Regions from separate parts of the Homo sapiens genome. Here region 2 is linked to region 1. A link means that fine-mapping ties the variant in region 1 to the expression of a gene that starts in the linked region. Tissue or cell type: whole blood. Region 1 holds a variant in brackets; the other region holds the start of a gene. All regions are shown on one strand. Distances are from middle to middle. Region 1 overlaps LOC107986298 (a long non-coding RNA gene). Region 2 holds the start of HADH (hydroxyacyl-CoA dehydrogenase).

Region 1 (5,389 bases):
CCTTGGGGCTCAAGTGATCCTTCCCCCCCACCCCCCCACCCCCCTGAATAGCTGGAACTACAGATGCACATTACCACACCCAGCTAATTTTTGTATTTTGTGTGTGTGTGTAGAGATGGAGATTTGACATGTTGCCCAGGTTGAAAGCAATCTTGAGAAAGAATAATAAAGCTGGCGACATCACACTTCCTGATTTCAAAAGATATTTCAAAGCTACAGTAACCTAAGTGCGATGGTACTGACATAAAAACAGACATATAGATTAACGGAACAGAATAGAGAGCCCATAAATAAATCCATGCATTCACAGTCAATCTTCACTAGAGTGCCAAGAGCACACAATGGTGAAAGGATAGTCTCTTCAATAACTAATGTTGGGAAAACTGGATATTCACAGGCAAAAGAATGAAATTAGACCCTCATCTGACACCATAAACAAAAATAAACTCAAAATGGATTAAAAACTTAAACATAAGACTCAGAACCGTAAAACTACTAGAAGAAAGCATAGGGAAAAAGCTTTCTGACATTTGTCTTGGCAATAATATGTTTGAATAAGATAGCAAGAGTACAGGCAACAAAAGCAAAAATAGACAAGTAGAATCACATCAAATTAAAAAACTGCTGCCCAGCAAAGAAAAAAAAATCACAGAGTTAAATAACAACCTATGGAATGGGAGAAAATATTTGTAAACCATATATCTTACAAGGAGTTAATATCCAAAATATATAAGGAACTCACACGAGTCAATAGCAAAAGCAAATAATCCAATTATAAAATGGGCAAAGGACCTAAATAGGCATTTCTAGAAAGAAGATATACAAATGGCCAACAGGTATATGTAATGGTGCTCAACATCACTAATCATCAGGGAAATGCAGATGAAAACCCAATGAAACATCACCTCATAACTATCAGGATGGCTATTAATCAAAAAGACAAGAGATTAAAAGTGTTGACAAAGATGCAGGAAAAAGGGAACCCTTGTACAGTGTTCATGAGAATTTATATTGGGACAGCCTTTATCAAAAACAGTATACAGGGTCCTCAAAAAATAAAAAATAGAACGACCATATTATCTAGCAATCCCTCTTTTGGGATATACCCACAGAAATGGAAATCAAGATTAAGATCTTGAAGATTTATCTGCACTCCCATGTTCACTGCAGCATTATTCACAACAGCTAAGATATGAAAAGAGTGTAAGTATCCACTGATGGATGAATGGATAAAAGAAAATGTGGTGTACACACACACACACACACACACACACACACACACAATGGAATATTATTCAGCCTCAGGAAAGAATGAAATTTTGCCATTTGCAACAACATGGATGAACCTGGAGGATATTATGCTAAATGAAATAAGGCAGACACAGAAAAACAAATACTGCTTGATCCCATTGATGTGTGAAACCTAAAATAGTCGCACTCATAGAATTATAAAGCGAATGGTGGTTGCCAGGGGCAGTAGGGAGGGAGAAACGGTAATGCTGGTCAAAGGATAAAAAGTTTCAATATGCAGGATGAATACGTTCTACAGATCTAATGTACAGCCTGGTGGCTATGATTAACAATATTCCTTACTTGAAATTTTCTAAGAAGTAGATCTTAAATGTTTTTGCCACAAAAAAAGATAATAATAAAAGAAGAAAAAGAAAATGGTAACTTGGTGAGGTGATAGATATGTTAATTGGTTTGATTGTGAAGACCATTTCACAATGTATACATACATCAAAACATCAAGTTGTATACCTTAAATATGTACAATTTTTATCCATCAATGTTCTTCAATAAGGCTGTTTAAAGAAAAAAAGAAAAAATCCAACTCTTAAAAAAATAATAGAATCAATCAGAAAACTAAAACAGCATACACTTAATGACATAAAAATAGAAAACTCTTGTATTCCAAAAAACGGCTGGCAAATCATGAAAAAATGTTTGTATCAGCCTTGCCAAAAATTCAATATCCTTAATATATAAAGTGCTTATAAGTCAGTGCTTATAAATCCATATATACTATAATATATAGTATCTTTAATATTTTCATATACTATAGCATAGTATTTCTTCTAGTGAACTGTAAGTGCTATAATTCAGTAGTAGAATACCCTAATTTTAAAAACAGGCAAAAGATACAAATTATTGTGTTAAACTTTTAAGTTCAGGGGTACATGTGCAGGTTTGTTACATAGGATAACTGTGTCATGGTGATACAGGAGTTAAGAAGAAATCACTTAGGCAGATAGTGAGGGTACAGAAGTCCTCGGTAAGGCTTTTCTCTTTAATGAAAAGCAGCCCCAAATCATTGTCTAACAAAGAGCAGCCTGTAAAGTCAAGCGGCAGACATAGACGAGGAAGCTGGGAGCTTGCATGGGTGAATGCTGGCAGGAACTAGGGGCTAGACATGTTTAAGATGGCAGCTTCATCTTCCCTTCTCTGCCAGCCATGTGTACAGTAAGAAGCAGACAAGATGGCTCAGATCAACTGGAAAGCCCATTTGCATAATAAGATTAGGGTGAGACAACCGGCCTTTCCCCATCTGCTATGTAAATGTCATACCTGATCGAACCTATCTGTGAACCCTTTGTAAATCAGACACTGCCTC[C/T]TCAAACCTGACTATAAAATTCAATGCCACCTGCAGGTCTTTTCCATTCAGGGACCCCACTCTCTCTATAGAGAAAGCTGTTTCTCTTTCTCTTCTCTTCTGCCTATTAAACCTCCACTCCTAAACTCCTCTTGTTTGTCCATGTCTTAACATTTTCCTGGTGCACGACCATGAACCCCAGGGTATATACCCCAGACAACATAGTCACTTCTATGGGGGTTTATTGTACAGATTATTTCATCACCCAGGTATTAAACCTAGTACCCATTAGTGATTTTTCCTGATCCTCTCCCTCCTCCCACCCTCCACCTTGAGATAGGCCCCAGTGTGTGTTGTTCCCCTCTATGTGTCCATGTGTTCTTATCATTTAGCTCCCACTTATAAGTGAGAGCATGAGGTATTTGGTTTTCTGTTCCTGCATTAGTTTGCTAAGGATAATGGCCTCCAGCTCCATCCACATCCCTGTGAAGGATATGATCTCATTCTTTTTTATGGCTGCATAGTATTCCATGTTGTATATGTACCACATTTTCTTTACCCAGTCTATCATTGATGGGCATTTAGATTGACTCCATGTTTTTGCTATTGTGAATAGTGCTGCAATGAACATGTGTGCATGTGTCTTTATAATATAATGATTTATATTCCTTTGGGTATATATCCAGTAATAGATTGCTGGCTCAAAAAGTAGTTCTGTCTTTAGGTCTCTGAGGAATCACCACACTGTCTTCCACAATGGTTGAACTAATTTACACTCCCATCAACAATGTATAAGCATTCCTTTTTCTCCACAACCTCACTAGCATCTGTTATTTTTTTATTTTCTTAACAGCCAATCTTACTGGTGTGAAATGGTTTCTCACTGTGGTTTTGATTTGCATTTCTCTAATGATTAGCGATACTGAGCTTTTTTATATAATTGTTGGCCACATGTATGTCTTCTTTTGAGAAGTGTCTGTTCATATCCTTTGCCCACTTTTTAATGAGATTGTTTGTTTTTTCTTGTAAATTTGTTTAAGTTCCTTATAGACTTTTGATATCAGACCTTTGTTGAATGTAGTTTGCAAAATTTTTCTCCCATTCTGTGGGTTGTCTGTTTACTCTGTTGATAGTCTCTTTTGCTGTATAGAACCTCTTTAGTTTAATTAGATCCCATTTGTCAATTTTTGCTTTTGTTGCAATTGCTTTTGGTATGTTTATCATGAAATCTTTGCCAGTGCCTATGTCCTGAATGGTATTGCCTAGGTTATCTTCTAGAGTTTTTATAGTTTTGGGTTTTACATTTAAGTCTTTAATCCATCTTGAGTTAATTTTTGAGATATAATTTTTTTTTTGAGACAGTCTCTCTCTGTCACCCAGGCTGGAGTGCAGTGGCTCAAACTCGATTCACTGCAACCTCCACCTCCTAGGTTCAAGCAATTCTTGTGCCTCAGCCTCCCGAGTAACTGGGATTACAGGCACGTGCCACCACCCCCAGCTAATTTTTATATTTTTAGTAGAGACAAGGTTTCACCCTGTTGGCCAGACTGGTCTCGAACTCCTGGCCTCAAGTGATCCACCTGCCTCAGCCTCCAAAGTGCTGGGATTACAGGCATCAGCCACCATGCCTGGCCAAAAATTTTTAGGAATACAAATGGCCAATAATATAAAACATTTTTCAAATTCATTGAAATGGAACTATTACAGTGAGACACCATTTTTAACCATTGAATTTTAAAGATATTTTTGAAAAAGGAAAATACTAAGTATTGATAAGAGAGAAGCAGTCATACATTGCTGTTGGCAATACAGACTGGAACCACATATCTGGAGAAAATTTAAGAATATGTACCAAGATTCTAATTATTCCTAAATGCACAGTGGCATCCTAGATTGAATCCTGGAACAGAATACTGACTTTAGTGGAAAAACTGGTGAACTCAAATAACATCTGTAGTTTAGTTAATAGTATCATACCAATGTTAATTTCTTAGTTTTGACAAATGAACCATGGTTATGTAAGATGTCAAAATTAGTAGAGGTTGGGTGAAGGAAATATAAGAACTTTGGACCATTTTTGCAATTTTTCTGTAACTTAAAATCATCCCCAAATTTTAAAAATTAGGCATTTATGTCATTTAGCCCAATAAATTCTACTCTAAGATACTAACTATGGGAGATAATCAGATGAAAAATAGTTTGGGATACGTTATTCATTGCAGTGATATATTTGAGAGCAATGGAGAAGAGAAATGGAAAGAAAAGAAAAAAAGGGATAAAAAATCCACATGCTCAACACTATGGTCAATGGAATACCCACCCTCATCCATGCACAAAACAATTATGAGGCCTGTTCTAGATGTTGGGGCACAGCAGTGAACAAAAGAAAAATCTGTGATGTAAGAAGCTTAATTCCTGGCCAGGCATTGTGGCTCATGCCTGTAATCCCAGCACTTTGGGAGGCAGAGGTAGGTGGATCGCTTGATGTCAGGAGTTCGAGACCAGCTTGGCTAACATGGTGAAACCCTGTCTTTACTAAAAATACAAAAAATTAGCTGGGCGTGGTGTCAGGCACCTGCAATCCCAGCTACTCGAGAGGCAGAGGCAGGAGAATTGCTTGAACCCCAGGAGGTGGAGGTGACAGTGAGCAGAGATTGCACCACCACTCTCCAGCCTGGGTGACAGAGTGAGACTCCATCTCAAAAGAAAAAAAAAAGAAGAGGCTTAATTCCTGAAAGGGGAAAAAAAGTTGAATGGATAAGAGAAACAAAATGTGTAGCATGTTAGTGATAAGTG
Region 2 (5,389 bases), 23 kb after region 1:
CTTCTCAGGGGAAAGGAACACATGATACATTTATGGGAGCAGCTAATGGTTGGTTTGTAGGCATCCTGAGTAGTGAAAGGCAAGCTAGGCTATTCCAAACTTTTCTAATCTTTATGCTTCTTTAGTGGCTCTCCAGGTTATTATAACTTGTGTTACCAGGCTAATTACAAAAATGGATACCTCTTTAAATCAGGCCATAAGGCTGAATCAGGTCATTCAGTGAACTATGGTCCTTGTAAAAAGTAAAGTAGAGGTTCCTTTTCAAAGACTTTCCTCCTCATCTGATTAGGAATAAATAGTAACCTCTCTTAGAAGCAAAATTTATTCAAAGACCTGTTAACATTCTTAAATATCTGCTAGCTGTAATAAAGAAATCAATGTACTTTATGTTCTTAGCTCCCACAATTTAGCCTAAATATTTGCCCTGGCATGCTTATACTGGTCCAAGTGGGCATTAGGTCATAGCCTGTTCCTCTTCCTTATTTAGAGGTGTTTTTCCCTTCTCAGCATTCCACAAGTTACTTCCTCCTTCCTTTGTTCTCCTCTGCCTTTGCCTCTTTTAAGAATTTCTAAGTTGCTAGCCAATCAAGACAAATACAGAATGTGAAGTCCCGTTCTAGCCAATGGAAACCAGTCACAACAGTAAGGTGGACGGGTCAGGTTATAAATGACCCTGCCTCCTTTGTTCGGTGTACTCTTGTGGCAAAACTGCTGGCGAGTGTACTCTTTCCGCAGAAAGTAAAAATGGCCTTGCTAAAGAAATTAATTTTATGTTCAAGTGCTATTTCTTTACGGCACCAAGAAATAAGCATTTCTAGCAGTCCTTAACCGCCATAATGCCCTAAATTAGACCATGACCAATTGGACTCAAATACTTTGAACTATCTTTATTGCCTGAACTTTGAATTGTTTAATTTTGATCAGTTCAGTTTGTGGAGACTCCTGTTAAGGTGTGTACCTCAGTTTATTGCTATACTCCTTCTCGTGGCCATAATAGTCTCCCTGATGTGTTGTTGTCCCCTCGAGAGTCTTCAATGTCTCTATGCAGCCATCCTTTGTACACCAAATGGTGTTATTACAGTTAGAATAACAACATGAAGAAAGTATAATCACTCAACTAATTTGACATTGTGACTTCCATACTGAGACAAAACAAGGTTCTGGTCAATCTCGTAAAACTGAGAGGCTGACCCAAAGGAGGAAACTGTTATTAAATTAAATCTGGCCTAAAGTTGCCTCCCTACCTAGCAAAGCATAATCAAACCTAATATGTAAATAAACTGCAATGTAATTTGAGAGTACGTTCTTCTAACAAGTGGCCAAGTCTTGGCCAATCACCGCAGCGGAGCTTTTAGCCCATTACAGGCTGCAAAAAATATTGTCTATAAACGCGGCTTGCCCACTGTTAGGGGCTGGAGCTCTCTGAACCTTTACTGGCTCAGGATACTACATGATTCATGCTTTCTTTGCTCAGATAAACTCTGCTAAACTTGTTTGAAGTTTTTTTGTTAACAATATTTAAACATAAAGCAAATAAATTAATAAGAATCCTATATCACTAAGTTACAGTAATTAGAAAGTATTCACCTGAGTGAGAAGATTGGCCAAGCTGCTATCCAGTCTTCCATTATTTGACAAGACATTTCTTTCCTATGCTTTCTAATAGTATTCGTTATTCCAGAAAGGTTGCTCTATGACCTTAAACCGTCCACATGTTCACTGCACTGATAGACGTCCAACGTCAAGATGGGTAACTAAAGGTCAACTCTCTCTTTACCTTCCCTGAGCCTGATTTTTGCATTGTAACTCATGGTCACTAGACATTTGTTTTGGGTGTTCGCAGTCTACATTTATTTCCCTTTTAGGGGAAACAATCACTGTCCACGGGATTAAAATAATCCCGAGTTGATTATTTGGTGACATCAACCAACGGTGCACATTTTGGGTCCATTACCAACACAGCCAAGCAGCACATATTTCTTCAGAGCCTAGATATGCACATGTCATCAAAGGATAGCATTTTACAGAGTCAACACCACTCACTTCATAGAACAAGGGGCCAGTGGCTTTTCAGAAGAAGGGTCTGTTCTCGGCCCCACACCAGAACGCCAGCCGCCAGGTCCCGCTGCTCAGCAGGTCTCAAGCCCGCGCTCACTCGGGCTCCGGCTGCTGACAGCTGCGAGCCCGCGCGTGTATACCCGCTCAACGCTGGGACGTTACAGCCAGGGCCAATGGGCAGAGCGGGACTCGAGGCCCCGCCCCCGCCTTGTGGCGTCACGGGGACGCCGGGGGCGCGCGGGCTGCAGGGCCGCGTAGGTCCCCGCCCCCAGAGTCTGGCTTTCCGCGGCTGCCCGCCTCGCGCGTCTTCCCTGCCCGGGTCTCCTCGCTGTCGCCGCCGCTGCCACACCATGGCCTTCGTCACCAGGCAGTTCATGCGTTCCGTGTCCTCCTCGTCCACCGCCTCGGCCTCGGCCAAGAAGATAATCGTCAAGCACGTGACGGTCATCGGCGGCGGGCTGATGGGCGCCGGCATTGCCCAGGTGAGCGGCCCTCCCTGCAGCGTGCCCACGCGCTTGGCCGCCCACCCTGAGGTGGAAGCTCTGGCGCGACCGGCCGCGAGGGGCCTGCACCCGCCCGACACCAGGGAGTTTTCACCCCGCGCCTCCCGGGTGTAGTTGAAATATCTCGCGTCTGGGCCTGTGAGGGCCCAAGTCTCACTCCCCTCAAAATTCAGGGTTCTGGGCCGATCCTCAGCTTCCTCGTTTGGAAAATTCTGGCTGCCCCCAGGGCCCGCTGAAGGTTCCATGGAGAGTGGCGGTGAATGCATTTTGGAAGCGGGCCGTGCAAGAGAAGAAAGAATTGTATGTGCACAAGGTTCAGGCATAACGCGTTTGTTCCTGCTCGGCTCAAACGGGAGTTTGCTGCCAAAGACATGAACTGCGATCAGTTTTAATTCTATCAGTTATTTTTGATTTTTATTCTGTAATTGTGCAGTCTTTGTCAAAGTAGTTTTCTCTCCTAAACGGCCTCCCGGCTCTCCCCGGTCTTTCCTTCGCTTGCTAGGTTGTAAAGAATAGTAGTAGTCATGACTTTTGTAGCACTTTGTAAAGTCACCTAATGGAAGATTGCTGAGGTCCTGGTTTTGACCTTTGAAATAGTGCCGTCTGTGCAGAGTTCTGAGCTTGCGATTTTGGCGCTGCAGCGGAATAAGTCTCTCTCTTTTTTTTTTTTTTTTTTTTTTTGAGTCGGAGTCTCTTTGACCCAGGCTGGAGTGGAGTGCAATGGCGCGATCTCGGTTCACTGCAACCTCCGCCTCCCGGGTTCAAGCGATTCTCCTGCCTCAGCCTCCCGAGTAGCTGGGATTACAGGCGCCCCGCCCGGCTAATTTTATATTTTTAGTAGAGACAGGGTTTCACCTTGTGGGTCAGGCTGATCTCGAACTCCTGACCAAAGGTGATCCGCCCGCCTGGCCTCCCGAAGTGCTGGGATTACAGGCGTTAGCCACTGCACCCAGCCGGAACAAGTCTTTTATCCATTGTACATCTTCAGGGCTTTTCCATTGTTCTGCTGAGCTGTGGTTCAGGCTCAGTTGTGCGAGTGATTGATTACCTGGCTACTGTAATGCTTGTACTTTTTTTTTTTAAAAATTATTCCATTTCAGCTCACATTGGAGAACCATGGTTTTCGTATCCTAGCTGATTATATTCTTAGCATTTCAGTCCTTTGCAACTTGGTTTGTTGGGGAAGGCGGTTATAGTCATCTAATTTTTCTTGGGGACAGTACTACTGTGGCTACAGTCATGAGAGAGTTTACTTTTTCAATGTCTTGTTTCCAACCAAGTCCACGCTTTCATGCTTGCTTTTTAAAAACAAAAACAAAAAAACCTTTTACTATTAGGTATTATATATCTCAATTTTCTTCTCCTTGGCAAGTTTTTTACAACGTTTTTATTTGATTGCATTTTCTTCTAAAAGCTATATCCCTGTAATGTTTTATTTATATGACTTCTTACAGTCTCCCATTTCCTCTGAGACCATAATTTTGGACATACATTGCCCTTTTTATTGTGTGGATCCCCTGGCTGCTAGGTTATAGTATCCCCATAATCTATGTTGTATGTGGACTGGGAGGAGTAACTCCCTTTAACCTAAAAGTTCCACAGGTTATACTCAAGAGAAAGTTTAGTTTGAGTACGTTTGTATTCCCAGGCTCCACCCAAATCTCCCAAGGCTGTGAGAGTGAGATTTGTTGTGAGCAGGAATAGAACAATGTGTTTTTTAGAAACATTTTAACAACATCTTAGTAACAAAATATTAGGGCCTTAAGCAGCCTCCAGGAACATTATGGGAAATGGATCCAGAAACTTGTGGCTGGTGTCCTTGAAGACAGCAGTGGAAAAAGATTAGAAACTAAGTAGAAAGCGTCACTTCAACTTTTGTAGAAAATCAGAGTGCTTAGTTCTTTGAATGCTGCATCCATCATTGGCCAAAAATGGATGTTGTGTTGCATTAAAAGGCAGAGGGGCAATACCTAAAATTACAGGTATGGTGTTGGAGCTTTCACCTGACAAAGGAGTAAGGAGAAATGATTGACATTAATGGAGAACACAGGCTTGTGCTTGTCAATCAAACTCTTAAATAGGTGGACCAGGGAGTGCCTTTTGAAACTTAAGGGAAAAAAAAGCTATTTATGCCATAGGCTGGACACATAATGGAACTGTCATTCTGAAAGGTTATAAAGACCAGAAATCTATAAAGTGGACGACCATAAGAAACAGTTCCATCCTTATGTAACACAGTTTGGAAAAACCTCAGTTACTTTAGTTGACAGCTCCAATCCTCTAAAACATTTGTGAGCAATGCTTTGCAGTGGTTTAGCTTATCTGCTTTTGCACCCTACCCTGTAGCATGCAGTTCTAGGCAGTATTGCTTCATTCTTTATGCTCCTTGACCAACAGCTTTTGGCATAGGGTAAATCTGTTTTGCTTATTGAGTGCCAGAGACGAATTAGTTGATGTGTTTTGAGTACAGATGGGCTACAGTTCAATATAAGAAGTTGGATGGTCTGCATGCTAGCTCTGCCTCATGCAGTATTAACATGGGACTTTACCTCTGTGTCTCGGTTTTCTCATCTCTAAAGTAGACTAATGCTAGTACTGGCCTCGTAGGGAGAGAATTGAATAAATTCAATGAATTCATGCATATGTCAAGCAGTTACATATATCAAGCATATGTCAAGCACTTACACAGTGTCTGGCATGTAATAAGAGTTCACAGAAAGTTAGCTGCCTTTATAATAATTATCTTCGGCCCGGCATGGTGGCTCAAGCCTGTAATCCCAGCACTTTGGGAGGCTGAGGGGGGCAGATCATCTGAGGTCAGGAGTTCA

The links.
Region 2: it holds the start of HADH, and the variant in region 1 is fine-mapped to the expression of HADH in whole blood (INTERVAL, PIP 0.98).

Annotation. Positions count from the first base shown.
Region 1 is chr4:107,964,602-107,969,990 of GRCh38, forward strand. The region is part of intron 1 of LOC107986298 (a long non-coding RNA gene); the gene reads right to left. Among named protein-coding and RNA genes, the nearest start is that of HADH, 23 kb to the right of the region's middle. The variant C/T (reference allele first, on the strand shown) is at 2,615.
Region 2 is chr4:107,987,525-107,992,913 of GRCh38, forward strand. HADH (hydroxyacyl-CoA dehydrogenase) reads left to right here and starts at 2,365. Exons shown (of 8, transcript NM_005327.7): 1 at 2,365-2,540. The coding sequence starts at 2,409. RefSeq lists a silencer at 2,132-2,361.